6 linked regions of the Homo sapiens genome follow. The protein of the gene in region 5 purifies or fractionates together with the protein of the main gene of each other region. This does not show direct contact. Each region holds a gene or a part of one and is shown on either strand. Other genes may lie near its edges. The genes, in order: MMP3, ZDHHC11, FBXO36, PDGFRA, CDH11 and HSPA12B.

Region 1 (4,194 bases), on a different chromosome or scaffold from region 5:
TCTGCTTGGTTACCTCTGAGAAAAGGAGTTAGATGTTGGAAACAGGGGTGGGAGGAAAATTGTTTATATTGCATAATGTCTTTTAACGTTTGGATTTTGTGTTGTGGCTAAGGTAGTACCTATTAGAAATAAATAAAATTAGGTAATTTTAAAAATAAAGAAATGCTGTAAATTTTGACCAAATGTTGCTATTCATTAGTTTTATCTTAAACTCTCCCCATATGATCTCTCCCATACTTCTGGCTTTAAGAATAATCTCAATGTTGAAACCTTCCATATACATATATGTTTTATATATATGTGTGTGTCTCTTTTGCATTTCAGATTCCTTTAGCTCTTGGGTGCTTGAATTTCTCCAACACATTTCAAAAATGGGCAAACATAAAAAATTCATCCTAACTCTTGCCCTTCCTTCACAAACCTTCTTCTCTCCAAGTCTTTCCCCATCTCAGTAAATGCCGTCACCATCAGCTCTTATGCTCAAGCAAGCTACCTAGGATTTACTCGGAACATTTCCTTTTCTCTCAAATTGCATATCTAATCCATCACTAAGTTCTGTTATCTATCTCATATCTATAGAGTCTACTCTCATTCCTAACTCTCCCGTGTGCCCATGTGGTCCAAGCCATCATCTCCCCTCTTAGTCTCCACACCTCCTTTCAAAACCTCCTTCAATGCCATTCCCTCAAAAGTTCTTCTAAAACCATCTGGTTCAAAATAGATCCTCCTATTATTTTTTTCCCTTTATAACTCTTATGAAATTTACAATTGCGTATTTATATTTGTGGTTATCTACACGTGTTCTTTTCGCTGGATTATAATCTCGATGAGGGCAGGGGCCTGTGTCTATTATTTTCATATTCTTATGCCTGCAACCTAGCATAATGCCTGGCATATGGAATATGATTTGTAAATTACTCTCAGATGAATGGATAAGTTAAAAACGGCTCTTACCATGTACGAGGCATTGTGCTAGAGACATTAGTTATGGATGATAAACCAATGTTAGAATCGTCATTTGCCAATGGGCATTTACATCCAGGCACAGGCAGATACAAAATGAGTACAAGAGTATATTTTACCATGTGAATAGGGTAGATATGAGGAAGTTTGCTTGCTAGGTCAGGGGAGGGACCTGCACTGAGGGAATTTATAAGTAAAAGGAAAAGATGAAAAACAAGTCTGATTTCCTCACCCTGTAAAATGAGATGTGCAAACAAGGCAATTTGCTATGATTATAGGATTCCCTTCACAGTTTTTCCTAGAGCCTGCTCTACAATGTCACAACCCCTCTAGATTTTTTGCCTTAGGTATGTCAGGACACATAAAATGTCTAGGTGGTAGAAATAAGCATCCTGTTTGCAGGGCTCATGAGGAGGGCAAGTGGTAGATTCTCTGCAGTTCTGGAACCCATTGTGAACCCCAAGCCATGGAGACTCTAGTCTACTGGCTGAGCATGCTCAGCCCATAAAGTGCCCAAATTATGAGAACAACTTGCCCTTGAAACAAACAAACACAACAATAAGATAAAATAACTGACAAATCGTCTTTATTAAATAAGCAAATAGTCTACACAGATACAGTCACTTGTCTGTTGCACACGAGTGCTTCCCCTTCTCTTGGGAAAGATCACTCTATGTGACAAGGTGCAAGCTAAGCAGCAGCCCATTTGAATGCCCTGTAATAACATAAAAATGACCGGCAAGATACAGATTCACGCTCAAGTTCCCTTGAGTGTGACTCGAGTCACAGCACAGGCAGGAGAAAACGAACATTTCAATTCACAGAGACTTAGGTGAAGAATTATTAGCTTCATTTAAAGTGCCCATATTGTGCCTTCTACATATCTCTTTCAACAATTAAGCCAGCTGTTACTCTTCAAAGTGTGTGTCACTTTCTTTGCATTTGGGTCAAACTCCAACTGTGAAGATCCAGTAAAGAAATAAAAGAACCCTGCAAATACAGACAAGGGAAATAGTAAGATATTTTTCCAAATAAAGACATTTGACAATATACAAAACTCAGAATCATAGAGAACTAAAAATAGAAAGTGTTTATAGAGCTTTACTTTATGTCAGGGACTATGCCAAGCTTGTTACATGAATTTATTTTCATTTATTTCTGCAACAACCCTATGAGGTTGTATGTCTAACTCCATTTACAGATTGAGCAAGTTGAGGTTGAGACAGATTTCGATGCTTCCTCAAGGTTACTCAGCAAGGAAGAATGGAGACAGCACTCGGTGCCAGCTCTGTCTGAAAACACAGCCAGATTCCAGGTTACAGGGTTATTCTGCTTCCGATCAGATAAATTCTCCACTTGCTTGGAAACTCTCATCACCTATTTCTTTCTTCCCCAAAAATCCTCCTCCCTTTTCCCTGCATTGCAGCCTAGGAAGCACAGCAACTATTTCAAAACACCAGGGGACCCTTTAGTGCTCTGCAAACATGGTGATCAGGTTACCTTTCAATAAAGATCATCAGCCTCCACTTCCTTACCTTGAGTAGAAAACAAAATCTTTTTTTTTTTTTAAACTTTGGGCACATGGAAAGGTAAGTATTTGCAAATGACTGGCATGGGCAATGACTGACAACTCAGGAAAGACAGACAAAAAATCTCCCTGGGAATTAGTAGCAGCAATAAGATAGGGTGGAGGAGAAGGCCAGCTAACCAACATTAAACCTGGCCACACCACTTGATGGGATTTTTATGCTAACATGGTAATCTGAAAGTCGAGCTTGACTCCACATGTTAGCTCGAGATGTAAGTGACACTGGAGCACTTTGATTTTATATGCATGTATAAGATAAAGTAGCGAGATTTGTGTAATTATCTTTATGGTTCCAAACAAGTTATTTTGTGAAGTAGTTCTATAATGAGTACAAATGTAGGCGAATCAAAATTTTGAGAAGGGAACTGGCCCTAAGAAACACTTGTTATTAAAAAGTTTCAATGCTCCTCTTCCCTCTGATATCATAAAATGTTTCAAGTGCTCTATGGCCAACACAGTAAGTATCCTCTTACCAAATTCTTCAAAAACAGCATCAATCTTTGAGTCAATCCCTGGAAAGTCTTCAGCTATTTGCTTGGGAAAGCCTGGCTCCATGGAATTTCTCTTCTCATCAAATCTGTACCAAGTAAAAGAAACAGCTCAGCATTGCATAGAGGCCATGTTACCGAACATCTTAGATCATGTTAGGTTTAATGTGGAATTTTACTAAACTTTATAAATACTGCAAATAAATGCCAAGCATATTTGGGACTATAGAAATATGTGACTTTAATGGTACTGTAAAGAGTTCTGAAAGCCATATCTCCATCCGGAACAGGGGCCGCATCCTGCTGTATGTAGCACATGCTGTTTGTCATCATATTTCTTAAGCCTGGACAGAAAGAACCTTAATCATCTTTCTGTCACAAAGACATGAAAGTGTGAACATATATATAAAGTGAATTGAATCAACATCTAAAATGCAATTTTAATTCCCTACCACAATTGGCCCATATATGCCTGCTGTCCCCTCCCCTGCACATCTAAATCTTCTCTGGTGGCCTCCTGGGAAAAGGGATTAGGATAAGAAGCAAAGCACAGTAAGTGTGTTTTTAGCCCATTGGCTGGATATCAGATGGTCGGCCTCGATGTCTCAAAGTCTGGCCAAATGACCCAGGAATCAACCTGTCTGTGAGTGTTGGGTTGTATCCATAAACTGGACTGCTATTGATCATCATCTCTTAAATGAGCCATCATTATCAGGTAGAGGTGACAAGTGGGTGAGGTTAGAGGTAGCCCTTGAAAATCATATAGTAGTGTTAGGAAGACAAAACAAACACACAATGAGACAGTGACAAACACACAGTGAGACAGTGAGCCAAACTAAAAGACAATGGGAAGGGAACGCTAAATTGCGGTCTGGGTTCTCAGAACATTTTCCCAATGGGTCTAAAGTCCACGAGGGAAAGCTGCATGGAGGTGATGAGACTTGAGCCAGGACTTGAAGGATGGGCAAGATTTGAATAGGTTGAGGAGAGAAGAGGGGGCTCCAGGCAGGTGGGGTGACAGCACCAAGGGAAGCACCAGCCAACTGCACTTGGGACTGAAAGCAGGAGAGCCTAAGGTGCTGCTGTTTTAAAGTAAGAACTTTCCCACAGTTGTCTGAAGTCCCATCCTTCCTACTAAGAGAGAAGCAGGCCTAA
Region 2 (5,039 bases), on a different chromosome or scaffold from region 5:
CCAAGAGGAGAATGTCCCTGGGTGGCTGCGGGGAGAGGAGGCCCCGCGTGAATGGCTCTGCCCCATCCTGTGGGCTTTTGTCTCTGTGGTCTTAGAGACCCGCCTTCTTTCCTGGATGAAGAGGGGAGTCCTGTCCAGACAGTAGGATGAAGATGAGGGGTCTTTACTCCCCACAAGTGGGCTCAAGCCCAGGAGGACTGGGGGCAGGGTAGGGCGTGTCCGCTGCCTGGAGGGGCTGCTGCTTGGGAAACCTAAGCTGTGAGAGGGAAGGCAGTATGAGGGAGCAGCAGTCAGGGAGCCGCTCATGCCTGGAGCCACCCGTCACCCCTGGATTATCCAGAAGACTCTTGGAGGGAGGAGGAGCGCGGGGAAGGCAGCTGTGCCCTAACTGCCTCTTCGGAGGACTGCGGCATTCATGCTCTGGCCTCCAGTTGAAAATAGAAAAAGGGATTTAAACAAGCTTAGGTGAACATAATACAATGGAAAGGATTAAAGGAGGTTAAAGGATACTTTTAAAAAAATATCATCATGGCAGAAAGACCAAGGGAAGATGGTTTAGTCAAAGTATGTTCCAGGAACTGCTGCCCAGAATTGGTTTTTGTGGATGGATTATTCTCTGCATCTTTTGAGCAAAGACGAGAGACTGGGAGTGGATTTGGTCTCACGTCTACAGCATGGACATCGCTTTTGGCTCAGATTTGCACGAGACCCTTGGAGAAGGGGGGACTGCAGCCGAGGTGTGGCCGGGCTCCTCCAGGGCCTCCTCAGCCCGAGTTCCCTTTGGGTGCAGAGATCCAGGTCCCTGAGCCTGCAGGCCCTCCTGGGTGCCACGGCACTCTCGTGGCTCTCCCCTTCCCTGGCTTCAGTGCCTTTGCCCAGCATGGTGCCATGGAGACCCCAGCACAGACCATGCTCAGGGCCCCCCGAGTGGACCGAGCCCGCGTGCTCCTTGGCTGGTAGGGAGGCCTGTCTGCATCAGGTGGAGTCGGGAGGTGCGGGCAGAGGCCCCAGAGCTGTGACACTGGAGACGCCGTGTGACCCTCATGCTCCGCTGGTAGGCTTGGGCGAGTCGCACCGCATCTCTGACCTCACTTTCCCCACTCGTGAAAAGGGCTGGTTCCCCCTCCTCACAACCTCCTTGTTCCTTGTGGGGATTAAAGGCAATCACGTTTGCAAGAAGCGCTGCCTGAATTGTCGGGCGGTGTGCTGGTGGGAATGTCCCACGGCCACCCCTCTCCAGCGAGAGGCCTGGAGACCTGGGGGGGCGTCACAGGACGGCACAGAGACAGGAGCCTGAGCTTCCAGGCGCGGTCGGGAGCAGGGTTTGAGGCCAGCGTTGGGCGGTGGCCAGGCGCCCTCAAGTGGACGCCCACACTGACCTGTCACCTCCACCCTGCGGGCTCCAGATGCCCTGCGCGTCCCCACCCCTGCGCCCCCCACACCTGCCCTGCATGCCCCCGCCCCTGCCCCAGATGCCCTGCGTGTCCCTGCCCCTGCCTCTGCACCCCCCACCTGCCCTGCATGCCCCCGCCCCTGCCTCAGATGCCCTGCGTGTCCCTGCCCCTGCCTCCCCGCCCCCACACCTGTCCCACATGCCCCGCATGCCCCTGCCGCTGTGCCCCCCACGCCCGCCCCTGCCCACCCCGTGCACACCCCCTGCCCCCGTGCCCCCCACACCTGCCCCTGCGCCCCCACTGCTCCCACGTCCCCACCCCCATGCCTGCCTGTGTGTCTCCCGGCAGGTTCTTCTTCAGCACTGTGGCCTCGGCCACAGCTGGCATGCTCTGCCTGATCGCCATCCTGCTGTATGTCCTCGTCCAGTACCTCGTGAACCCCGGGGTGCTCCGCACGGACCCCAGGTATGAAGGTACGTGGCCGCCGCTCTCAAGGGGCCTCATCCTCGCCTCCAGCCGTCTTTCCGGGTGGTAGTATCGGGTCTGGGGTGGTCGGCCCCTCTTGTCCCAGGGAGAGGCCGGGGCAGGCAGCCCCATGCAGGCTCTGACCTGGCCCGACGGCAGCAGCCCAGTGTTCATACAGCCCAGCAGCCCCCAGCGCGCGGGAGGCAGGCTCGGGGAGGGCGCTGGCCACGCTGCTCTGTAGATGCTGCCAGGTCGTGTCAGGCGAGAGACAGTGGGGTCCACCTCTGCCCCTGCCCTCCGCAGTCATCCCTGTAGCACCTGTCACACCATCCTGTGGGGCCATGTAGTTGTGGGAGGGTGGGGGTGCCCATCCTGCAGGAGCAGCCCATGGGGAGGGAGAGTGGAGGCAGCGCTGAGGGTGCTGGGCTGTAGGCTGCGGTGCGCTGAGGCCCTTGGCCAAGTGGGCCCGGAGCCTGGGCCTCGGGAACCGATGCTCACACTGAGCCACTGGAGAGACGTGGCGGTGAGGACTGTGGGCTCCAGAGGCGAGTCCACGCCTAACCCAGATCCCGTGATGCCAGCATCCTCGGGAAATGGGCCTGTGGCTGTGACTTAATATCTGAGGTGGGAGGGTCGTGCTGGGATGTCCCAGGGGGCCCAAATCCAGCCACGAGTGTGCTTGTAAGAGAAAGGAGAGACACAGAGGGGAGGTGGCCTCGTGAGGATGGAGGCAGGGGTGGAGTCACACAGCCACAGCCCGGGGTCGCCGGGAGCCACAGGAGCTGGCAAAATTGGGAAGACCTCCCTGGACCCTGCGGAGGCAGCGTGCCCAACTGTCCTGCAGCTGGACGTCAGAGCCCTGCCTGCCTCAGACTGCAAGAGTCTGCTGGAGAAGCTGCCCCCACCCGCCACCATTTGATGTATTTATTGCAGCAGCGCCAGGACCCTGACCAGGAGGACCTGGGCCAGAGAAGCCCCTCGGGGTGCAGGACAAGACTGCCAGTCTCAGCCCCAGGCATGGCTGCACCCGCACTGCACACAGCCCGGGTGGCGAGACAGGGAGGACTTGCCTGCCCTTGTTCCAGAACATTCCGGAGCCAACACGGTGTGACATTTTTTTCAAGGATGAGCTTTGCCAGCTCCACGTGGAAGTCCCTAAAGCTCCTCCTTCCACTTCGAAGCGTGACTGATGCCTCCAGGGCCTCACAGCCGCTTCTGAAGCACTTCCTGAAAGCCAGCTCCACCCTGGCGAGGCCCTGACCTCAGCGGACCCAAGCCCAGGACGATGCCTGTTGCGTTCTTCTCCCCCAGTAGCAAGTCACCTTCCCCAGCAGCCTCCATGTTGTCTGGGCTCTCCCTGTGGGGGATGCCAGGGGAGAGTGAGAGAGCAGAGGTGGCCAAGATGGCATGTGCTGCCTTCTCTCCTGGAACATGCTGCTTCCACAGGGCAGTGCCAGTGTCTCCGTGTGAATTCATTGATTGTGGCCTGAGTGAATTCCTGGGTTTGCTGTTCCAGATGATTCTGCAGGGCTTCAAAACCAGCAAGGCCCTGAGCAAAGCTGCTCCTTCTTCTCATGGGCTGAACTCATCGTGATGTCACTGGCTAAGGGGGGCAGCATGGGGTCCAGCCCGGCCCAGGCACATGGAGCTGCGGTCCTGTCAGGCTGAGTGTGGTGTTTGCCTTCTAGGATGGCCCCGAGGCCACCAGTTCCAGAGAGGGTCTGTCACCGAAAGACATCCATGCTGAGTCACCCAAAGACATCCATGCTGAATCCATCCCTCTGCCATTCTGCCTTGCCCCACCCTCTGCCATTCTGCCTTGCCTGGCCCTCTGCCATTCTGCATTACGCCTGATTTTTGGAAGTGTGGTTTTGAGTGTTGGCAGCCCAGTGTCACAGAGGACCATATCTTAGAAATGACCCCAGGCGAGAGCTGTGGCTTTCCTGTTCTATTTGAAGGCAGCTGTTTTAGGGTGCAGCGGGTCCAGGGACACAGAGTGGGCCATGAGCAAGGGATGGGTGCTGGGGCCTGGCAGAGCTGGCAGGCTCTGTGACCCCGGCACTTAGGAAGGGGTGGGCACCGTGACCCTGGCACTAAATAAGGAAGGGATGGGTGCTGTGACCCTGGCACTTAGTGAGGAAGGGGTGGGCACTGTGACCCCGGCACTTAGTGAGGAAGGGGTGGGCACTGTGACCCCGGCACTTAGTGAGGAAGGGGTGGGCACTGTGACCCTGGCACTTAGTGAGGAAGGGGTGGGCACTGTGACCCCGGCACTTAGTAAGGAAGGGGTGGGCACTGTGACCCTGGCACTTAGTAAGGAAGGGGTGGGTGCTGGGGCCCTGGCACTTAGGAAAGGATGGGTGCTGGGGCCCGGCAGAGCCGGCAGGCACTGTGACCCCAGCACTTAGGAAGGGGTGGGTGCTGTGACCCCGGCACTTAGGAAGGGGTGGGCACTGTGACCCTGGCACTAAATAAGGAAGGGATGGGTGCTGTGACCCTGGCACTTAGTGAGGAAGGGGTGGGCACTGTGACCCCGGCACTTAGTGAGGAAGGGGTGGGCACTGTGACCCCGGCACTTAGTGAGGAAGGGGGGTGGGCGCTGTGACCCCGGCACTTAGGAAGGGGTGGGCGCTGTGACCCTGGCTCTTAGTGAGCAAGGGGTGGGCGCTGTGACCCCAGCACTTAGGAAGGGGTGGGCACTGTGACCCCGGCACTTAGTGACAATGTTGGAGCCTCACCTCCCAGATCCATAAAGCAGGGATCATGAAAACCAACCGAAGGCAGCAGGGCCTACGGGGCACTCAGGTAAGGGAGGCGTCCACCTGGGCAGGGAGACATCCCTCGCACTGGCTGTCCCCACACCGCCCCATCCCCAGCACGCTCTGGTCTGTGACGTCCACCTGATGTGGCACCCGTCAGCAGGTGCTGGACACAGTGGCTCTCCCTTGTCTCCCCAGATGTCAAGAATATGAACACGTGGCTGCTGTTCCTCCCCCTGTTCCCGGTGCAGGTGCAGACCCTGATAGTCGTGATCATCGGGATGCTCGTGCTCCTGCTGGACTTTCTTGGCTTGGTGCACCTGGGCCAGCTGCTCATCTTCCACATCTACCTGAGTATGTCCCCCACCCTAAGCCCCCGATCCCCCCAAGGCTGGGTGGTCAGAGCTGCTCATCTTACACC
Region 3 (5,039 bases), on a different chromosome or scaffold from region 5:
TGTGTGGAAACATTTTGGCTGTGGACGGTGGTCAGTGGGCAGAATGGGCATGATAGCTTAGAAGTCTGCAAAATATTCTTTCTTTTTTTGAGACAAAGTCTTACTCTGTTGCACAAGCTGGAGGGCAGTGGCGTGATCTCTGCTCACTGCAACCTCCACCTCCTGGGTTCAAGCAATTCTCCTGCCTCAGCCTCCCGAGTAGCTGGGACTACAGGCGTGCGCCACCATTCCCAGCTAATTTTTTTGTATTTTTAGTAGAATGTTGGCCAGGCTGGTCTTGAACTCCTGACCTCGTGATCCATCTGCTTCATCCTCTCAAAGTGCTGGGATTACAGGCATGAGCCACCGCGCCTGGCTGTGTCTTTCTTTTTCTTTTTTTTTTGAAACAGAGTCTTGCTCTGTTGCCCAGGCTGGAGTGCAGTGTCCTGATCTCAGCTCACTGCAAGCTTCGCCTCCCAGGTTCAAGCCATTCTCCTGCCTCAGCCTCCCCAGTAGCTGGGACTATAGGCGCCCGCTCCCACGCCTGGCTAATTTTTCTATTTTTTTTTAGTAGAGACGGGGTTTCACCATGTTGGCCGGGATGGTCTTGATCTCCTGACCTTGTGATCTGCCTGCCTCAGGCTCCCAAAGTTCTGGGATTACAGGTGTGAGCTACCATACCCAGCTCCTTTAGTTTCTCAAAGGTAATTATTACTTATATTAAAAAGAAAAAGAGGCCGGGTGCAGTGGCTCACGCCTGTAATCCCAGCACTTTGGGAGGTTGAGGCGGGCGGATTACTTGAGGTCAGGAGTTTGAGACCAGTCTGGCAAACATGGTGAAACCCCATCTCTAATAAAAATACAAAAATTAGCCGGGCGGGGTGGTACATGCCTTTAGTCCCAGCTACTTGGGAGGCAGTGAGCCAAGATCATGCCACTGCACTCCAGCCTGGGTGACAGAGCAAGACTCTGTCTCAGAAAAGAAAAAAAAAAAATGAAAAGAAAAAAAGGTCAGAAGTTTCTAGACACTAAATCCTCCTTAAGGATGGGTACAGAAATTCATGCTTGTAATCCCAGCACTTTGGGACACAGAGGCGCAAGGATTGCTTGAGCCCAGGAGTTTGAGGCTGCAGTGAGCTGACTGCACCACTACACACCAGCCTGGGGGACAGAATGAGATTCTGCCTCTAAAACAAACAAAAACACCAAAAATCCTCCTTAAAATTTTGCAAGGAAAATTGCAAAATTAATCATTAATCAATTTGCACTCTAAAACTGTAGAATTAGAATTATTTTCCTTCCACAAAAACAGCAGGAGTTTGGGACACAGCTATCAAAGCTATTCAATATTCAATATTCAATATTCAGCCTCAATATTCAATGAGGGAGGTGGGTGAAAGGTGGTGCTGGCCCAATAGGGGGAATACAGGCAGGACACCACCTCAAAGTAACAGTTATCCATTTACACTTTCATTTTAAATCTTTATTGCTTTTCTCTGATTATAAAAATAAATGCTCATGGTAGAAAATTCAGATCTTCCAGAAATATGAATGCGGAGAGTAAAAATCTGTAACTCTTAAGAGTGCATCATTCCAGCTTTTTCTTTTAAGAATTATTTAAAACCTCACTAACATTTATTTAAAACACTTTTTTAAAAAAGTAGGATATGCTATGTTTAATCCAGCAACTTGCTTTTCTTGCTAAAGATTTTATTTGGTCTACTGAGTAAACAGAGATCCACCGCATTGTTTTTGAAAAGTTGGATAGTATTCTATGGCATGAATGAATCACAGTTTAACCACATTTCCTCTCATGGAAAAATGTTTTTACAATTATTGACTTTGGTCAATAATCTTGCTCACATATCCTTGTGCACATGTGATAGCATTTTTGGATATCCAAATCCTAGAAATGGATTTGCTGGGTCAAAGGGTGTGTGCATTAACATTTTTATTAGACTGCATTTACATTTTAAATCTTCAAAATTGGTCTGCAGTATGAAATGGCACTAGCTCAATTTTTTGTTGTCTCTCGCCCAGCCATCACCAAGTCTAGTTTAATTCTTTTGTCAGAAGTCATTGAGATGACAGCTTCCTGTCACAGGCTGGCATGCAACCTCAGGTGTTTTCAGTCTTTAGTGCCACAACTCTAATGCACTTCAAAAATAATTGCCATTTTTTTTAGAGGGGTGAGCTTTTTCATTTTTTTTTTTTTTTCAAATGACACTAGCTTCATATATCTTTTTGGAGCTTTGGATAGGATTTAGAAAAAGAGATAAAACAAGACGAATCTATTGCCCAATTCTTCCTTCTTTCATCTGCTGGAGTTAACTATAACATATTGGTGCTCTTCGGACAACCACCTGGGTTATTGGCTGCAAGAGGCCGTATCTGCCAGTTCCCATCTACTTAGCATACCATTATTCTCTTTCTAACACTTTTCCAGTATTTGTCACATTAAACCTAAGTTAACTGTTCTGGCCACCTAAGCAACACTTCCATTTTGAGAGGACAAAGAAGACAACATTTCAAGAGTACAATACTGGTAACAGTACCCTCCTGGACCACTTAGAATAAAGTGATTTTTTGCTTCTTCTAAACTCATAGATTTTAAAACACCTGCACTCATTAACTTGCCAATTGGTCATGAACTTCCTTTGGAGTTAAAAAAAAATACAACATATAAAAGATTAGTCATTAAAGTGTTTTTACAAATCAAATACTAGCTACATTCTCCCCACTATAAATAGGAATATATATGTGTCATGAAAGTACAAACTAAATAATATTCAAGATTCTTTCTAGCCCTGGCCAGGTTTGGTGTCTCACCCCTGTAATCCCAGAACTTTGGGAGGCCAAGGCGGGCAGATCACTTGAGGCCAGGAGTTCAAGATCAGCCTGGCCAACATGGTGAAACCCCATCCCTACTAAAAATACAAAAATTAGCTGGGCATGGTGGCGGGTGCCTGTAATCCCAGGTACTCAGGAGGCTGAGGCAGGAGAATCACTTCAACCCAGAAGGTGGAGGTTGCAGTGAGCCGAGATCACCCCACTGCACTCCAGCCTGGATGACAGAGTGAGGCTCTTGTTGCAAAAACAAAAAAAAAACAAAGATCCTTTCCACCCCTAACACTTTATTAATCTACTGGTTTTCAAAGAATTAGAATCCAATATAAGAAAATATATGTAAACTACTAGAGCTAGAGTAAGAATAACAGTATTTTTTTTTTTGTTTTTGAGATGGGGTCTCACTCTGTTGCCCAGTGGTGAGATCTCGGCTCACTGCAACCTTTGTCTCCTGGGTTCAAGTGATTCTCCTGCCTCAGCCTACCCAGTGGCTGGGATTACAGGCTCATGCTACCATGCCCAGCTAATTTTTTTATTTTTAGTAGAGACAGGGTTTTACCATGTTGGCCAGGCTGGTGTTGAATTCCTGACCTCAAGTGATCCACCCGTCAGGCTCCCAAAATGCTGGAATTACAGGTGTGAGCCACCACACCTGGCCAAGTAAATCTTATTTATTTATTTATTTATTTTAAAGACTGAGTCTTGCTTTGTTGCCCAGGCTGGAGAGCAGTGGTGTGATCTCAGCTCACTGCAACCTTTGCTTCCAGGGTTCAAGCGATTCTCCTGCCTCAGCCTCCCGAGTAGCTAGGACTACAGGCGTGCATCACCATGCCCAGCTAATTTTTTGTATTTTTAGTAGAGATGGGGTTTTGCCATGTTGGCCAGGCTGGTCTCGAGCTCATGGCCTCAAGTGATCTGCCTGTGTCGGCCTCCCAAAGTGCTGAGATTACAGGCATGAGCTGTGCTCAGCCCCCCCTTTTTTTTTTTTTTTTTTTTAAGAGAAGGGGTCTTGCTATGTTGCCCAGGCTGGTCTGAAACTCCTTAGTTCAAGCAATCCTCCCACCTGAGCCTCCCAAAATTCTGGGATTACAGGTTTGAGCCACTGTGCCCAACCCTTGAGTGAATCTTTGATTTAGAAAGCAGCGCACTATTTTTTCTAAAGCTGGAGATCATCATTATAAAGATCAGCTTCGAGAAACTAAACTGACCCCAAGCTGTAATCCAAAAGTTATTTATTTGAATAAAACCCCTCTCCCAAGACCCAAAACAACATGGTATCAAGCAGTAAAAGAGAAGTGCCTGTATAAGCATACAGTATATTTCAAATGTTACTATATAAACAAAGAAAATGTTTATGTATAACATTTATATTCTGGACTATGTCAGTGGTGGTATGACACTAATGAGAGAAATATCTGCCCTCAAATCCATGTCAAATGTGCAGTTATTTGGATTTAAGGCCAACGAAAAAGATGCAGTGAAAAAGAGACTAAAAAACAGAATCAGCATGAAAGAAGGATTCATCTAAATCTGGGGCATAATTTGGATAATATACAACATTAAAAAAATAAAGACAGGAGAAAGGGGAGGAAATGTACAAGAAATAATTTTAGAAAGTCATTCCAGAAAAAAAATCTATCTTATAAAACATATTTTAATGCTAGTCTTTTAGTACTTATTTATGTCAGGCCACCTCTTACTGGATGTTTGGTTTCCTGTGCTGAGACTCAGAAAAATTGTCTTGTGGTTAGAAAATAGCATATTCTCAAGGCAGTTGACTGAAAAGTATATTTTTTTGGCATGCCATTTTTTACAACAAATTTTACTTTAAAAAGAGGGTGAATTAATTAGCTTGGAGATTAACTCTCACTGGTAGAAGTGTAGTGGATTTATTCAGCATGCTTAAAAAAGAAAATGGATCAGAATTTAGGATTTTATATATATGTAACTGACAGAACCTGAGATAAAGGAGAGTTTTTCACTTGCAAAAAATAAAAAATAAATAAATAAATAATAAAAATAAAGAAAGAAAAAGAAAAATTAAGAACACTGAAGGGATGGTGGGAAAGATTTCTTAAAAAAGAGTAGTTAGGGCCGGGCGCGGTGGCTCACGCCTGTAATGCCAGGAGATAGAGACCATCCTGGCTAACACGGTGAAACCCCATCTCAACTAAAAATACAAAAAATTAGCCGGGCGTGGTGGCGGGCGCCTG
Region 4 (5,039 bases), on a different chromosome or scaffold from region 5:
AAAGTCGTGAAAATCAAAGCACTTTCAATTAAACTATATAATTTAGTCCTTACAAGAATGCCACAGGGCAAGCAACCAGTCAGGCCTTGGTAGTCGTGCTTCCTAGAAGAAAAGACTGAGGTTCAGAGAGTTGGATAGAGTATCAGATTTGGGATCAGTGGCTAGTCCAATGTGATTTCCATCCTTTCTTCTGAGAGAAAGCATAAGAAGGCCAAGAGGATGGTGGAAAAGCACAAGTCACCTGCCTGAGAGTCAACAGGGCGGGGGGTCTCTTTCTCAGTTTGTTCCTCTAAGTTATGGCAAATGTTTTTTGAGCTGTGATTATTGAGAATGGGGGCTGAAGTTCAACATGTAGTTGGCATGAGGGAAGTAATTATGATTGAAGAAAAGATTTGGGTGAAATCTAGTGTTCTTCCCTGCAAAGGGGGTTGTTCTCACGGATTCTTATGGTGCCATGTTTCTCAGAATTTGTAGTTTCAGTTACTTATATTTGCACACCTGACTTTAGATGAGCTCCAGAATAGCAGTTACTAATTAAGGATGAGCATTTAGAGTAGATAAAAGTGGCAGGAACAGCAAGACTCACTCCCAGAGAGCCTCACTACAGGTCTAATAGGTGAGGAAATTCCCCATGTTTCCCATTTTTCTTCATTACCTCCCTGTGGGGCAAGCACTGCCATTATTCATGAGTAAACTGTCTGAGTTATAGATAAGTAATGACATGAAACTTCACAAACACGCTGAGCACAGTGGCTCACGCCTGTAATCCCAGCACTTTGGGAAGCCGACGTGGGTGAATCACGAGGTCAGGAGTTCGAGATCAGCCTGACCAACATGGTGAAACCCTGTCTGTACTAAAAATACAAGAAATTAGCTGGCCATGATGGTGGGCACCTGTAATACCAGCTACTCGGGAGGCTGAGACAGGAGAATCGCTTGAACTTGGGAGGCAGAGGTTGCAATGAGCTGAGATCATGCCACTGCACTCCAGCCCAGGCGGCAGTGCAAGACTCCATCTAAAAAAAGAAAAAGAAAGAAAGAAAAAAGAAAAAAAGAAAGTTCACAAACAGGCCTGATTTCTACCCAGGGAACCACTGTTATCAGAGATTGGGGTTTGGAATCTTAAGCAACAAACACATGTTTATTCTCTTCCTTCCTGATGGCTTGCTCAGAGGACCTGTTTCCATTGCCCACTTTTTTTTTGAGACAGAATCTTGCTCTGTCACCCAGGCTGGAGTGCAGTGGCGAGATCCTGGCTCACTGCAACCTCTGCCTACTGGGTTGAAGCCATTCTCCTGCCTCAGCCTCCCGAGTAGCTGGGATTATAGGTACCTGCCGCCATGCCTGGCTAATTTTTTGTATTTTTAGTAGAGATGGGGTTTCATCATGTCGGCCAGGATGGTCTTGAACTCCTGACCTCAAGTGATCTGCCCACCTCAGCCTTCCAAAGTGTTGGGATTACAGATGTGAGCCACCACGCCCGGCCTCATTGGCCACTTTATATGTCAGTAAATAATCTTTCCTGGCAGAGGGTCCACTGTATCTGGAGGCACTGAAGGAAATCTGGGAGTGTCTGGCCAGGGCAAAGCACTGCTTAGAGCTTGCACAGGAAAAGCAGTGAGCCCTTCTTTTAAGCTGGAGAAAGCTTTAAAGATGCATCTTTGGCAAGTCTTGCCAAAGAAATATGGGTTCTAAATGTGATAAAACCAAAGACATCAAGCTGGCTCTGGAGGCCTTGTTTGAAGTTTGCTGAGTGGATTGTCAGTGGGAGGCTGATATTTATATGTACAAACACACAAGCATTACTGCTAATTGTGGTAAATCAGGCTGGCCAGCCTGGCTCTGGGGCCCACTGTGCCTGCCACCGCAGCAGTGTGGAAGCCTTGCATCCCAGGCACATGTCAGGATCCTCGGAGGCCATCAGCCAGCCAGCATTGTGTGAATTGCATTTGGGTTCACAGCACTGTAATTGTGTTTCTCCTGCTGTGGTGAGCAAAGGAGGAAAATGGAAGGAGGAGGTATAATTTGCCCTAGGAAATAGTCAGGCAAGTAGGTGGCACACAGGGGTGGGATATGGCTAAAACACTGACCTTCCCTTGAGAGAGACCATATGGTGAAGTGGAGAGGGCATGGCGTTTGTATCACACGACCTTGTGTTCAAATCCTGGCTCTGTCACTGGCTGTGTGACTTTGGGTCATTTGCAAAACCTCTCTGAGCCTCAACTGCCACTTCTTAAAATCAGCTCTAAGTAATCACAGGGTTATTCTTCACAAACACAGCATGCACATGCAAACTTTGGCTTAGTAAATAATGGTTTCTCCTTCTCTTACTTTGTTTTCTACATACCCCACTCCCCTTCCTGTGAGGAGCCTTCCACCTTTTTCTCTGTGTTCTCTTCCTCTCCCATTTTCCTGGTAGCATTCAATAAAACAGAAATCTGATTTCTGCAAAGTAGGCCACCTTACGGTAGAAATACATGATTAGGCCCCACCAAAAACTTTGATTAGGCTATTATCTTCTGGATCCTGGATCCCCTCCAACCAAACCAAACCCAACTAGGGCTAAACACAGCAATATATGAATACATTGAATTTCTCTCTCACTCTTTCTTTTTTTTAAACCAGTTTACTCAGGAATCACATGCACACATATTTTAGCTTCCAAAGCCAATGATGGAACAAATTGTGTCCCATTAGGCTCACTCCATTGTATGAGTTAGCATCAGAGGAGTTCATACCAGAGTGACTTCATCTTGAATAGGGCCTAGGTAAGAAGAGGATGAGACCTGCTGGGCTGCATTCCCAGGAGGTTACACATTTGTAGTCACAGGAGAGAAAGGAGTTGGTATAGGAGTTGATAGATACAGGTCATAAAGACCCCAGTGATAAAACAGGTTGCAGGCCAGGTTTGGTGGCTCATTCCTGTAATCATAGTACTTTGGGAGGCCAAGGCAGGAAGATTGCTTGAGCCCAGGATTTCAAGATGAGCCTGGACAACATAGTGAGACCTTGTCTCTACAAACAATAATTTTAAAAACATGAGCTGGGCATGATGGTGCAGGCCTATAGTCCCAGCTACTGGTCTGAGGGGCAGTTGGGTGGCAGGCTGAGATGGGAGGATGGAGGCTGCGGTGAGCTGAGATCAGGCCACTGCACTCCAGCCTGGGTGATGGAATAAGACCCTGTCTCAAAAATAGATAAATAAATAAATAAATAAGCCAGCAAAACCAGAATGCAGTGAAGAAGCTGGCCAAAACCCACCAAAACGAAGATGGTGATGAAAGTGACCTCTGGTCATCCCTACTGCTTATTACACACTAATTATAATGCATTAGCATGTTAAAAGACACTCCCACCAGTGCCATGGCAGTTTACAAATGCCATAGCAATGACCAGAGATACTCTATATGGTCTAAAAAGGGGAGGAACCCTCAGTCCTGGGAATTACCTGTCCCTTTCAGGGAAAACTCATGAATCTTCTACCGCTTGTTGAGCGTATAATCAAGAAATAACTATAGGTATACTCACTCAAGCAGCCATGCAGTTGCTGTGCCCATGGAGTAGCCACTCTTTTATTCTTTTACTTTCTTAATATATTTGCTGTCATTTTACTCTTTTGGCTTGCTCTTGAATTCCTTCCTGCATGAAGCCAAGAACCTTTGTGACCTCCCAGGCTGAACCCCAATTTTGAGTTCCACCCTATGACATCTTTTCTGGTGACCAATGAAGGGACAATGGTAACCTCCCGTTGACTTTAAATTAAAACTGATTGGCACTGTTTGGGCTTCACCGGTGGGTGAGTCTCTCCTTGCCCAGATTCAACTTGCTAACATTTTTTTCTCTTCAATTTTGGCTCCTTTGTCCTTCCTAATGTTCTTCATTTTGGACAGATGGGAAAGTGGCTGTGAGGCCTCTGGCTTAGCAGCCTGATAGCAGCCTCCTGTTGTCTGGGTGCCCCAGATGGGAGCACGCCTGGCTGGCCACATCTTTTGCAACCCACCTTGTCATCCCTTCTCTGGGACCTTTTCTCTTTAGTTTCTTTTTTAAAAAAAATTTTAAATTATTTATTTATTTATTTATTTTTAGAGATAGCATCTCGCTGTGTTGCCCAGGCTGGAGTGCAGTGGCATAATCATGGCTCACTGAAGCCTGGACCTCACTGGCTCAAGTGATCCTTCCACCTCAGCCTCCTGAGTAGCTGGGACTATAGGCATGCACCACCACGCCTGGCTAAATTTTGTATTTTTTTTGTAGAGACGGGGTTTTGCCATGCTGCCTAGACTGGTCTTGAACTCCTGGGCTCAAATGATCTGCCTGCCTCAGCTTCCCAAGGTACTGGGATTATAGGTGTGAGCCACTGCACCTGGCCTCTCTTTAGTTTTTAATGACTGGCTGTTTGACTTCTCTGCTCTTCAGGCTGAAATTCTTATTTCATGTTTGTAGTCTTTGCCTTGGCTATTTGGCAACTGTTTAAGGCAAGACACTTGGTTTTGAGAGTTCTCCCGTTGTGTTGACCCTGGGACACCAGGGTCATTGTTCTGTAGCTCCAATTATGTTAGGTCTCATGCTTTTGGGTTTCACTATTGGCCACCCCCCAGATGCTCTGGGGTTTTTGGCATTTGGTGTGGGGACCCTTGTTAGCTGATACTCTGGGCTTTTCGGCATTTGGATGCTCCAGGGTGTTTGGCACTGACATTCCCCTCTAGCATTGTGGGTTAGAGTCCCACCCAGGGGAAATCTTGGTTTTGCCTTTTCTTGTTTTCTACTCTAAAGTTATCATTTTCTATAAAAACATTTTCTTTTCTTATTGTCACTTTGTTTAATGCTTTGCTCCAGGAGGTGGGAATTTGCAGGGGAAAATAATTGGGCTCTCCCTATACTTAGAAAAACTTCTGTGTCTAGTAGAGATCCTTGTTAGACAAAGGGACAGTGGTGAGTCCCAGAGAACTCGTCACTAGGGTGCCTTTTAGGCAATTGGAGCAAATTCAAATTAGCAAACTAAGTTTGGCCATTTGGATAAGTCCCAGTTTTGTCAGGGA
Region 5 (5,039 bases):
AATTGTAGAATTAGCAGCAATTTTATTACATGCAAAGCAACAATAAAATGATGTATTTATTGTTCTGCTACAGATGGAAGATTGCACTCTGTCCTTTCCTGAAAGCAATTTATCGTTAATTATCATTTATTATACTCTGGGAAGATTTTAATGTAATTATTTGATATACTGAACATTTCAAGTGCATGAGTTGTAAGATATTTTTGCAATAATATTTATAATATTATTTTAATCACCAACCAATGTAGGATGTACTATAAATACAGAAAGTTCATTTTTAAACTGTGGCCATTTTTATAGAGCAGGAAGGAAGGAAGGAAGGAAGGAAGGAAGGAAGGAAGGTTGGTTGGCTGGTTATTTTGCATCTCAACTCCAGGAAAATGAGAGAATGTTGAATAATTGTGGTGCCTTCTTCAGGGTTAATTTTAGAATAAAACTTTGTAAACAAGAACATAATTTGAAAATCTGAGGAGATGTTGCTAATTAATTTATTTCACTTTTAAGGAACGTCAGTAATCCAGGTGACAGCTTCAGATGCAGATGACCCCACTTATGGAAATAGCGCCAAGTTAGTGTACAGTATCCTCGAAGGACAACCCTATTTTTCGGTGGAAGCACAGACAGGTACTGTGGAATGTCACTGTGATTTGTGACACATGGTGAATAAGAAGTCCCAGGCCTGACCAGAACTTATTTAATACTCTGTTTTCTCAAATATGAAAAAGGAATACAGAGGGCTACCCTATAGGGTTAGTGTGAGGATTAGATACTTGGCCTGTGCCTATCACACAGTTAGTACACCATGAAACATTTATTGTTGGTTTTCCCATATTTCACGATGACCCAATAACAACTATAATCTAAAAACTCAACTTTAATATCAGAAGTAAGAGAGCAATAAGGACTAAGTCTTCCACAGTGCTCTCTATATTCCTCACATAACTGTTGCCATATCTACAGAGAGAAAAAGCTTCCAAAGGTCTCCTAAAGATTTAAGTGAGCATGGCACTCATGTGCCAATATCCAGCAATCATGCAGAATTCAGTTATTAATTTATCATTGTTTTCCGTGACAGGTGATAATAGACAGTATGTGCTTATATGAGCATTGTATATATTTTAACCGATTTGGTTCACTCTTTTAAAAATTAATATTTACACTTTAATGTATTGCATGAAATATGCACCTCCTGCTTTAAACTTAATATGCACCATCAAAACATTTCCATGAATTGTATGTAGCAATAGACTTACAGAAGATTGTGCTGGAAGTCAAAAAGTATGAGTTTAGTCATGGATATTCATGCAATGACCACTCAAGTATTTCAGTCTTTAGGGTGTTTATATCTGAGAAGAATAGGGTTATTACTTGAATGTACAACAAAACATAAATACAAATGCTGTATAGTAATTTTTATGATTTGCTTGAAAAGACATAATGATGCTTCAGTATGGCTGCCTTTGGTTGTAATTACCATGTTGAAATGATTCTTGCTGAGGGCATGGGATATTTTATTCAGCATTGCTTCCTCAGTGCTCAGAACTTTCTTGTTGTCATAATGTTATAAACGAATATCTGTGATGTTGCCTGCTTACCTGTCCAGGTATCATCAGAACAGCCCTACCCAACATGGACAGGGAGGCCAAGGAGGAGTACCACGTGGTGATCCAGGCCAAGGACATGGGTGGACATATGGGCGGACTCTCAGGGACAACCAAAGTGACGATCACACTGACCGATGTCAATGACAACCCACCAAAGTTTCCGCAGAGTAAGTAGGTGGACTTGGCTTTCACTTTTCCATGGTGACACAGCCAGCTCTCTCCCTCCTCTAACCTATTCCTGCTTTACTGAGGTATCAAAAAGAAAATCTAGAAAACTAAGGGCAATTCATATCATTCTTACAAAAACAAAACACAAAAACAAGACAACAACAACAACAACAATGTCGGGGAGTAGAGGTAGTAGGAGAATGAAAAGATGTAAAAAGTTCTACAACCCTGGAAACAAAATATCGTTTTTGCTAAGTATTTTGCTTGGTAGTAGTGATGCAATCTAGTAATTAATTAACCCTTTTCTGCCTCAGTGTCCTCATTTCTAACCTGGATATAACAGTCCCTGAATCAGTTATCAATTACTGTGTAACAAATTGCTGGAAAACTTAGTGGTTTAAAACAATAAAAATAATAACAATAATTTGTTTTTATCATGTGTCTGGAATTTGGGCAAGGCTTGGAGGAGACAGCATGCCTCTGTTCTCCATAGCAACAACTGGGGATAGCTCCACTGGGGTTGGAGGATCCACTTCCAAACCAGCTTACTTGCATGGCTGGCAAGTTTGTGTTGATTGCTGCTTCCTTTCTGCGTGGGCTGGTTTTGGAAAGTGTGATCCCCAAGGGCACCAGGCAGAAATTGTCTTGCCTTTTGTTAACTAGCTTCAGAAGTTTCCACTGGAAACTGGAGTCATAAGCCACCAAATGTTTCCACTGGAGTCATAAGGCTCACAAATCTAAGGGGAGTTCATGTAGACCCCACCTTTCAATGGAAGACCTGTCAAAGTCATGTTGAAGGAAAAGCATGTGGGATGGGAGATATTGTTTTGGCCATGTTTTGGAAAATACAGTCTTCCACAGTACCTAATTAATAGGATTACTGTTTGAACTAAAGGAGCTAGTGTAAAATCTTATAATGACAACTGTCTATAAGTCGTCAACAAATTCTAGCCATTGTTATCTGGGGGATTATGGCTGTTCTACAAAATTTATAAAATTGCAGAGGGAATTAAATGAAAAACAATGATTTTGAAAGGTTATTATTAATAATTGTAATTATAGCAACTACCATCATTTAATGAATAGTCACTACTATTGTAAATCTCTGCAGGAGCCTACATTTTACAGATAAAACTGGTTTCCGTAAAAAGTGCATAAGTTGCCCTAGAAATGTGGCAAAGTCAGAGTTTGAACACAAGTCTGTCTATGTATGTACAGATGTGTATGAATGGACAGTATGACTGTGGTGCTGCTGGTGCTGCTAATGCATGGGGGGGTTCATCATGAAAGTGTCTTTTTCAGTTAGAGCCTGTGAGCTTACTATCAGAGAAATGGAACATTTTGCAAATGAGATAACAAGGAAGGCTACTAAATGTGGCCCCAGGAAGGCACTGTGGTTACTCAAAGGAATTCAAAAGCAAGAATCTACACAAGACTCTTTTGCCTGGCCGGGCACAAGTTCAGCATCCTCAATAAGCCTGAGGCTCATATAACATTCAAAGAGCTGCATGCTCCATTATCCACACTGTACGATTGTCTGGTGAGCTGGAAAAGAAAGGTCAAGCAGAATTATTAGCAGGCAGCCTTTACTGCCCTTGGTCATAGACAATCATATAGTAAAGTTACATTGCTACTGTACTGGTTTTACTGGTTTCACTGCCGTGAACTTGAATGAGATTTGGACAAAATCCACATAGGACATTTTTTTTTAAACCTTCACATTAATTGGTAATTATCTACAAGGGACTCCCACTTCCCACTCATCCTTTAATATAGAGGGCATGGTGAGATTAAATAGATTATGAATCCAAAAGAAAGTTGCAAAGCAAAATACTATTGATAAATATAGACAAAGTATTAGAACTGATGAAATCTCTGTAAGGGGAAATTAAAACATAATGAGCTGAAGTAACTTGCCCAAGACCACTTTGCTTGGAAATGATAGAGGAAAGATTTTCAACCCTGGCTTCCCTATATTGTGTGTTGCACAGAGTATTAAATGTGAAAAGCAAATAAGATAATGTTGAATCTTAGCTACTTAGTGCAAACCTTCCAGTGATTTCCCCAAGTTTAAACAAAACCTGAAGTCTTTTCCATTCCCCACAATGGTCTATTTTACGCAATTTGGCCTCCACTTCCTTACAGCCCTTCTCTCTCACCAGAAGGCTGTAGTCACTCTCCTCCTCTTGCTCCTCTGCAAGTATTCAGGATCTTCTCACCTTAGGGTTTTTGCCATTTGCTAATCACCTGGCTGGTAGTTTTTATCCTGCAGATATGCACGTCATTGTCTTCCTCAGTCATTTTAGATTCCTTTTTCTAAAGAATGTCTTCTCCTACCACACTACGCAAAACCAATCTCTCCCTCTTTCTGCTTATCACCCACACATTATTAACACAAGCATGCGTGTTCAATCACACTCATACACATACACAAACTCACTCACAAATAGCTCACATTCATACACACACTCACACTCTTACACAACAGATTCATGCCCACACAATCACTCATGGCCACTCACACATTTACCCCCTCACCCTCACACACAATCATGCACTTACACACCCACAACCACACACCCACTCTCAGAACCCTCACCCTTTTACCCTACTTTATTTTCCTTTTTCATTGCAGTGACATCAGAGTGTGTTTACATTTGTTTTTATTTTTTCTCTTTAGTCGGCCTCATTAAGAGAGGAATCTTGACTGTTTTGTTTAGTAGTAAACAAAACAAGCAAACAAAACAGTGTCCTGGCACTAGGACAGTACCTCCATGTACAGTATTAGGCTCCCAATAAACATTAAATAAATATATAGGAGGGTCACACTGCAGGAAAGCCTTCTGGAGAAGGTAACGCATGACCAACTTGTGAAGCAGGCAAGTTGCGAAGGAGGTGAAATAAGGGGAGTGTCGAATATAGAGTTAGACAGGGAGGGATGTTAAAGTTTGCATTTTTAAAGTAACTATGGAGCTGTTGAAGGAAGGCTTTTAAACAGAGAATTTTTTTTTTCTGGGCTCTTCGCAATACCATAAGTGAGCCTTGGAGTTAACTCATGGACCATCCTGAAGACATGAAAAGAAGCTTCAGCTATTTTGCTAAATGAAGACATGCATGGTTCTCCATCATTACCTGATGGGAAATGTAACAGAGCATTGTTTTTCTCCCTTACATGTGGCAGGTGACCCCAGCATTTCACCTGGACCCAGATATTGTTTTATCACCCTTCGTAGAACACATTCTTTTGACAAGCAGGCCATGTGGGAT
Region 6 (5,039 bases), on a different chromosome or scaffold from region 5:
CTGTGCTACAGTTCTCCCTCTGCAGCTCCCCATGGGATCTAGCTGAGGCTAAACCTGAGGCTAGACTCCAGCAAAGACCACATCCTTCATAGCTCCTTCTCCTGTCCCGCCTCCCTCCCTCGCCTTTCTCCTGAGAAACCTTCTTCAATAGACCTCACATATAAGACTCTCCATCTTGGCCGGGCGCGGTGGCTCACGCCTGTAATCCCAGCACTTTGGGAGGCCGAGGCGGGCGGATCACAAGGTCAGGAGATTGAAACCATCCTGGCTAACACGATGAAACCCCGTCTCTACTAAAAATACAAAAAATTAGCCGGGCGTGGTGGCGGGCACCTGTAGTCCCAGCTACTCGGGAGGCTGAGGCAGGAGAATGGCGTGAACCTGGGAGGCAGAGCTTGCAGTGAGCCGAGATCACGCCACTGCGCTCCAGCCTGGGCGACAGAGCGAGACTGTCTCAAAAAAAAAAAAAAAAAAAAAGACTCTCCATCTTGGGCTCTGCTTTTAGGACACCTGACTTAAGGCACTGTCTACACTGGCCTGGGCTGTGTCTTTTGTCCCTCTGTCCCCTGTTCCTGCAGGCCCACTCCCTCTTCTGGTGGGAGCAACTCTACAAACTCCCATCAGGAGCAGGCTGAAGTTCTTTCCACAATGACTCTGTGGTCTCAAGGGTGGTGGGGTGCATGCAAGCATGGGGACAGGCCTGGCCCTTCCTGAGCAGTGTTCTCGGGCCCGCCTGCACGTCCTCACCAGGTAGGCAGCCTCCCGCATGAACTGCTTGGCTGGCTGTTTCCAGATGGCAGGCACCGTCAACACCCAGCGCACAGTGTCCTTCTCTGGCAGCGATGGGCTCTGCTCCCTCAGCTCCTGGTACAGGAGGGGGCAGTGAGAGGAAAGCTGGCTTGGAGGGAGGGTGGTCTTCAGCCCTCTGCGGAACTGGAGGTACTAATCAAATCACAGGAAGGACTTCCCAGCAGAGCTGGAAGAATCGGCCCCCCTCCCATCAGTATGGCTTGGTGCAGGCTCTACCAGACAAAAAGGGAGGAGGGTACTGGAGAAGATGACCTCTGAGCTCCGGCGGTGGCTACCCATCCAATGTCGGGGACGGGATGGGGGAGCGGTTTCGGATGAGGGGAAAATAGGGGGTCCCTGCCACAGTCGGCAGAGGTGGGGCCGCAGCGCACCTGAAGGGCGTGCTCCCTGAAGAAGCGCAGGGCATGGGCGAACACCTCCAGGGCGGGCATCGTCTTTCCATTTACTGCCTCTAGCTGGGTCTTCAAGGTGAGATCCTGGCAGGGACACAGGGCGGCTCTGCAGGAGGCCTCAGCTTGGCACTCATTTCCTGACGACCTCGCTCTTAAAATCACCCCGTTTCCTGGAGCTTCCCCTCCTCTTTACCACCGTCCCACTCTTGCCCCATGTGACATTAGCTCTGCCCCGACCCCTCTCCTTAGCCCCACCCCTCCTGCAACCCCAGCTTCACTATTAGCCCCACCCACATTAGCCCCGCCTCCACCTCATTTCTGAGCTCCGCCCACACCGGAGTCCGACGTCTCCCTTTAGCCCCGCCCCCTCTCAGCCACGACTCCATCGGGCCGGTCCTCACACGTTTTGGTTTTGTCCCACCCACCCCCATTAGCCCTGCCCTTTTCCATGCTGGCCCCGCCTCCCTGTCTGGAGCCCTGTGACTCACCGTGGCGCTGTGGATCTTCATCTTGAACTTCTCGAAGTAGAGCCAGTCCCGCGCCTCTTCGGGGTCCAGGTCATGGTAGTAATCGCGGGCGGTGTAGCCAAAGCTGTGGAAGGCGCCCTCCGGAGTCAGCAGCAGGCAGGTCGGGGTCTTCTGGTGGGCCACGCCCGGGTCTCCGCCCTCCCATTTCCTGCGGAGGCACAGGGCAGTCAGTGCAACCCTCCCTTCTTGGGTGGGAATCCAGGCAGAGGGAACAGCATGTGCAAAAACTTACAGATGTGAAAGAGCAGGGAGAACTAGCTATGGGTCGGCTCCATAGGCAGCAGGAGAAAACACAAGAATGCTAAGGTGAGATCATGAAGAGCACAGAAGGCCATTCAGAATTCTGTCTTCGTGGATTTAAAGTAGCCAAGAGGTATGACCACATTTGCCTTTAGAAAGAAAGGTCACTGGCTCCCATGGAGCAACAGAATGCAGGGAAGGGAGCATGGAGAAAGGAAACCAAGGAGGAGGATATTGCAGCCATCCAGGTGAGAGAAGGTCGGGGCTGAACTTGGGCACGATCAGTGGCCATGGAGAGAAGTAGATGGGTATTCTAGAGATGTTAGGGGCTTGGTGTCTGGTGGGAAGAGAGAGCTTGGGAGGAGGCTGGAATGTCCCCCAGTTATTTCCTGTGACTGTCACCTCCACAGGACAGAGACAGTGTTCCTGGATGTGTCCTTAGCCCCAGCATGGCCTCAGCCATGTGTGTTGATCAGCAAGACATCTGGGATGCCCTGCAGCTCCTAGAGGGCTGTAAGTGCTCAGAGCCTTTGTGGTTTCCTGTGATGTGGAAGGAAGGACAGTCCAGTCTCATGAAGCTCAAGTCCCATGTATTTTGGGAGCAGTTACCTGTCTGTCTATGTCTCCATTCACCCTTCCATCCAGTCTCCAGGCCTTGGGAAGCCCCTCTTACCTCCCATCCCAGTCTGGGTTGAGAGCTTTGAGGTCTCCTGTAGCTTCACCTACTGCCTGCCGACCCTCTAGGACATATTCAGAGGACTGGGGTCTTGAGGTCCCAAGGTCCTTGAGGTCCCACATAAAACCCAACATTTGAATGGATTTTTGAAACATGTCTTTCAAAACAACTGTGTGACTTGTCAACTCAGCCCTTAGAACCTTCATTTTCTTGTTTTTATTTTTATTTCTTGTTTTATTATTTTTTCTTTTCCTTTTTACTAAAAAAGGAAAAGAAAAAAGATTTGAGATGTTGGACCTAGGAATCACCTCTAGGAATCTACCCCATGGAGATTGCGGCACAAGTTTTCAAAGAAGGATATTACTGCTGCACTTTTTGTAATAGTGAAAAATGAGAGGAGGAAAAAACCCCCCTAAAACTGTCAATAGGGGAATGGATAAATTATGACACATCTGTACTATGGAATACTAGGCCGTTCAAAGAAAGTGGTAGCTTCGTATGTGCTGACATGAAATATCTACAAAATAGTGTTGAAGCTTTAAAACAAAGCAAGTTGTATATCTCACTTTTACTTAAAAAAACACATATATGTTTGTATATGTGTGTGTTTGTCTACAAGCTTAGAAAAATATTTGTGGGCTGGGCATGGTGGCTCACGCCTGCAATTCCAGCATTTTTGGGATGCTAAAGTGGGATAATCACTTGAGGCCAGGAATTCAAGACCAGCCCTGGCAACACAGTGAGACCCTGTCTCTCCAAAAAAAAATTTTTTTTTTTTTTTAAATTAGCCAGGTGTGGTGGTGCTGTCTGTAGTCCTAGCTACTCAGGAGGCTGAAGTGGGAGGATTGCTTGAGCCCAGGAGTTTGAGGCTGCAGTGAGCTATGATCACACCACTGCACTCCAGCTTGTGTGACAGAGCGAGACCCTGTCTCAAAGAAAAAAAAAAAAAGGCCAGGTTGGTGGCTCACATCTGTAATCCTAGCACTCTGGGAGGCCGAGGCTGGCGGATCACCCGAAGTCAGGAATTTGAGACCAGCCTGGCTAACACGGTGAAACCCCGTCTCTACTAAAAATACAAAAAAAAAAAAAAAAATTAGCTGGGTGTGGTGGCGGTCGCCTGTAGTCCCAGCTACTCAAGAGGCTGAGGCAGGAGAATGGCATGAACCCAGGAGGCAGAGCTTGCAGTGAGCTGAGATTGCGTCACTGCACTCCAGCCTGGACAACAGAGTGAGACTCCGTCTCAAAAAAAAACAAAAAACCCCACAAAAGTTAGCCAGGCATAGTGGCGCACACCTGTATTCCCAGCTACTTGGGAGGCTGAGGCAGGAGAATCGCTTGAACCCGAGAGGTGGAGGTTGCAATGAGCTAAGATCGTGCCTTTGCACTCCAGCCTAGGCGACAGAGTGAGACTCCGCCTCAAAAAAAAAAAAAAGGAAAATAAAAAACATTTGCATATTTTATTGTTATGTTTGTTATATCTCAAAAAAATTCAAAATTAAAAACAAAGTCTGACTTTTCCTACAGAGGGTTGGGAGCTGCTCCAGTTGAGGCCAAGGACCCAGGCCTGGGGCCCATCCTCCAACTTTTACCCCAGTGGGGAGCCCCAGACTGGGGGTGGCAGGGCCTCCAAGGAGACCCCATGTCTCGGTGACAGTACTTTTGGGACCAAGGTATGAGGAACTCCCCACCTTCCCCACCTCACTCTCTCAGCCCAGCCGACCTCACCTCATCATGTGGATGGCCTCAGGGTCACTGGCAAAGCTGAAAGCATAGCCACTAGACGTGGTGCCGAAGTCAATGGCCACCACCACAGAGAAGGAGGCCTGCTGGGGGGCTCGGACCTCGGGTTTCTGCAAGTGCAAGACTTAGAATTAGCAAGCAGCCAGCAGGGACACCCCCATCCCCCACAGCCCCAATGCTTCCTCTGCATGGGGAAGACACTCCCCTCCACTGACTGTGGTCCAGACCAGCCCTGGACCTGGCCCACCCCACCTGCCCACCTGCTCGGGCTCCCTTGCCCTCCCAGGCTCCAGGCTGAGCCTTGGACGTGTCTCTCAGGTAGCCCCAGGCAGGGTTTGGCTCAAGCTCCTGCTTTCCTGCTTCCAGCCTCTGCCCACCCTCCCTCTGGACTGCCTTAGCCCCACCCCCACCTCACACCATCTTCATAGGCAGCCATTAGTCTGGGCCCAGCTGGGAGCAATTTTGCTCCTCCAGGCAGTTTTACAGCACATGGACCAGTGTATATATTTTATCCTCTTGCTCTTTGTGGCCATAGTGACACAAACCAGACTGTCTGATTCTGTGGCAGAGAGGAGAGGGCACGTGCATGTCCCCAGAGAAGTGTGTGCCTTCTCCTATGCCAGGGCTGGACTCCCCTAAGAATAAGGGGGTCCC

What was found.
Region 1: the proteins of CDH11 (region 5) and MMP3 purify together in Homo sapiens (co-immunoprecipitation; one large-scale study listed by IntAct). This does not show direct contact.
Region 2: the proteins of CDH11 (region 5) and ZDHHC11 purify together in Homo sapiens (co-immunoprecipitation; one large-scale study listed by IntAct). This does not show direct contact.
Region 3: the proteins of CDH11 (region 5) and FBXO36 fractionate together in Homo sapiens (co-fractionation; one large-scale study listed by BioGRID). This does not show direct contact.
Region 4: the proteins of CDH11 (region 5) and PDGFRA purify together in Homo sapiens (affinity purification with western blotting, with the first as the bait; one study listed by BioGRID). This does not show direct contact.
Region 6: the proteins of CDH11 (region 5) and HSPA12B purify together in Homo sapiens (co-immunoprecipitation; one large-scale study listed by IntAct). This does not show direct contact.

What each region holds. Positions count from the first base shown.
Region 1 is NC_000011.10:102,834,274-102,838,467, forward strand, and holds the end of MMP3 (stromelysin-1 preproprotein), read right to left. Parts: intron 3,129-4,194; coding exon 3,025-3,128; intron 2,494-3,024; exon of another isoform or gene 2,165-2,493; intron 1,954-2,164; coding exon 1,853-1,953; 3' UTR 1,528-1,852; downstream 1-1,527. UniProt on the Homo sapiens protein: Metalloproteinase with a rather broad substrate specificity that can degrade fibronectin, laminin, gelatins of type I, III, IV, and V; collagens III, IV, X, and IX, and cartilage proteoglycans.
Region 2 is NC_000005.10:840,428-845,466, reverse strand, and holds part of ZDHHC11 (palmitoyltransferase ZDHHC11), read left to right. Parts: intron 1-1,742; coding exon 1,743-1,867; intron 1,868-2,792; coding exon of another isoform or gene 2,793-2,970; exon of another isoform or gene 2,971-3,774; coding exon of another isoform or gene 3,775-3,784; exon of another isoform or gene 3,785-4,622; coding exon of another isoform or gene 4,623-4,664; intron 4,665-4,816; coding exon 4,817-4,972; coding exon of another isoform or gene 4,973-5,039. UniProt on the Homo sapiens protein: Endoplasmic reticulum-localized palmitoyltransferase that could catalyze the addition of palmitate onto various protein substrates and be involved in a variety of cellular processes.
Region 3 is NC_000002.12:229,924,909-229,929,947, reverse strand, and holds part of FBXO36 (F-box only protein 36), read right to left. Parts: intron 1-5,039. UniProt on the Homo sapiens protein: Substrate-recognition component of the SCF (SKP1-CUL1-F-box protein)-type E3 ubiquitin ligase complex.
Region 4 is NC_000004.12:54,235,784-54,240,822, forward strand, and holds part of PDGFRA (platelet-derived growth factor receptor alpha isoform 1 precursor), read left to right. Parts: intron 1-4,254; exon of another isoform or gene 4,255-4,269; coding exon of another isoform or gene 4,270-4,332; intron 4,333-5,039. UniProt on the Homo sapiens protein: Tyrosine-protein kinase that acts as a cell-surface receptor for PDGFA, PDGFB and PDGFC and plays an essential role in the regulation of embryonic development, cell proliferation, survival and chemotaxis.
Region 5 is NC_000016.10:64,988,500-64,993,538, reverse strand, and holds part of CDH11 (cadherin-11 isoform 1 preproprotein), read left to right. Parts: intron 1-504; coding exon 505-624; intron 625-1,603; coding exon 1,604-1,771; intron 1,772-5,039. UniProt on the Homo sapiens protein: Cadherins are calcium-dependent cell adhesion proteins. They preferentially interact with themselves in a homophilic manner in connecting cells; cadherins may thus contribute to the sorting of heterogeneous cell types.
Region 6 is NC_000020.11:3,741,740-3,746,778, reverse strand, and holds part of HSPA12B (heat shock 70 kDa protein 12B), read right to left. Parts: intron 4,496-5,039; coding exon 4,371-4,495; intron 1,878-4,370; coding exon 1,691-1,877; intron 1,309-1,690; exon of another isoform or gene 1,287-1,308; coding exon 1,182-1,286; intron 865-1,181; coding exon 748-864; intron 1-747.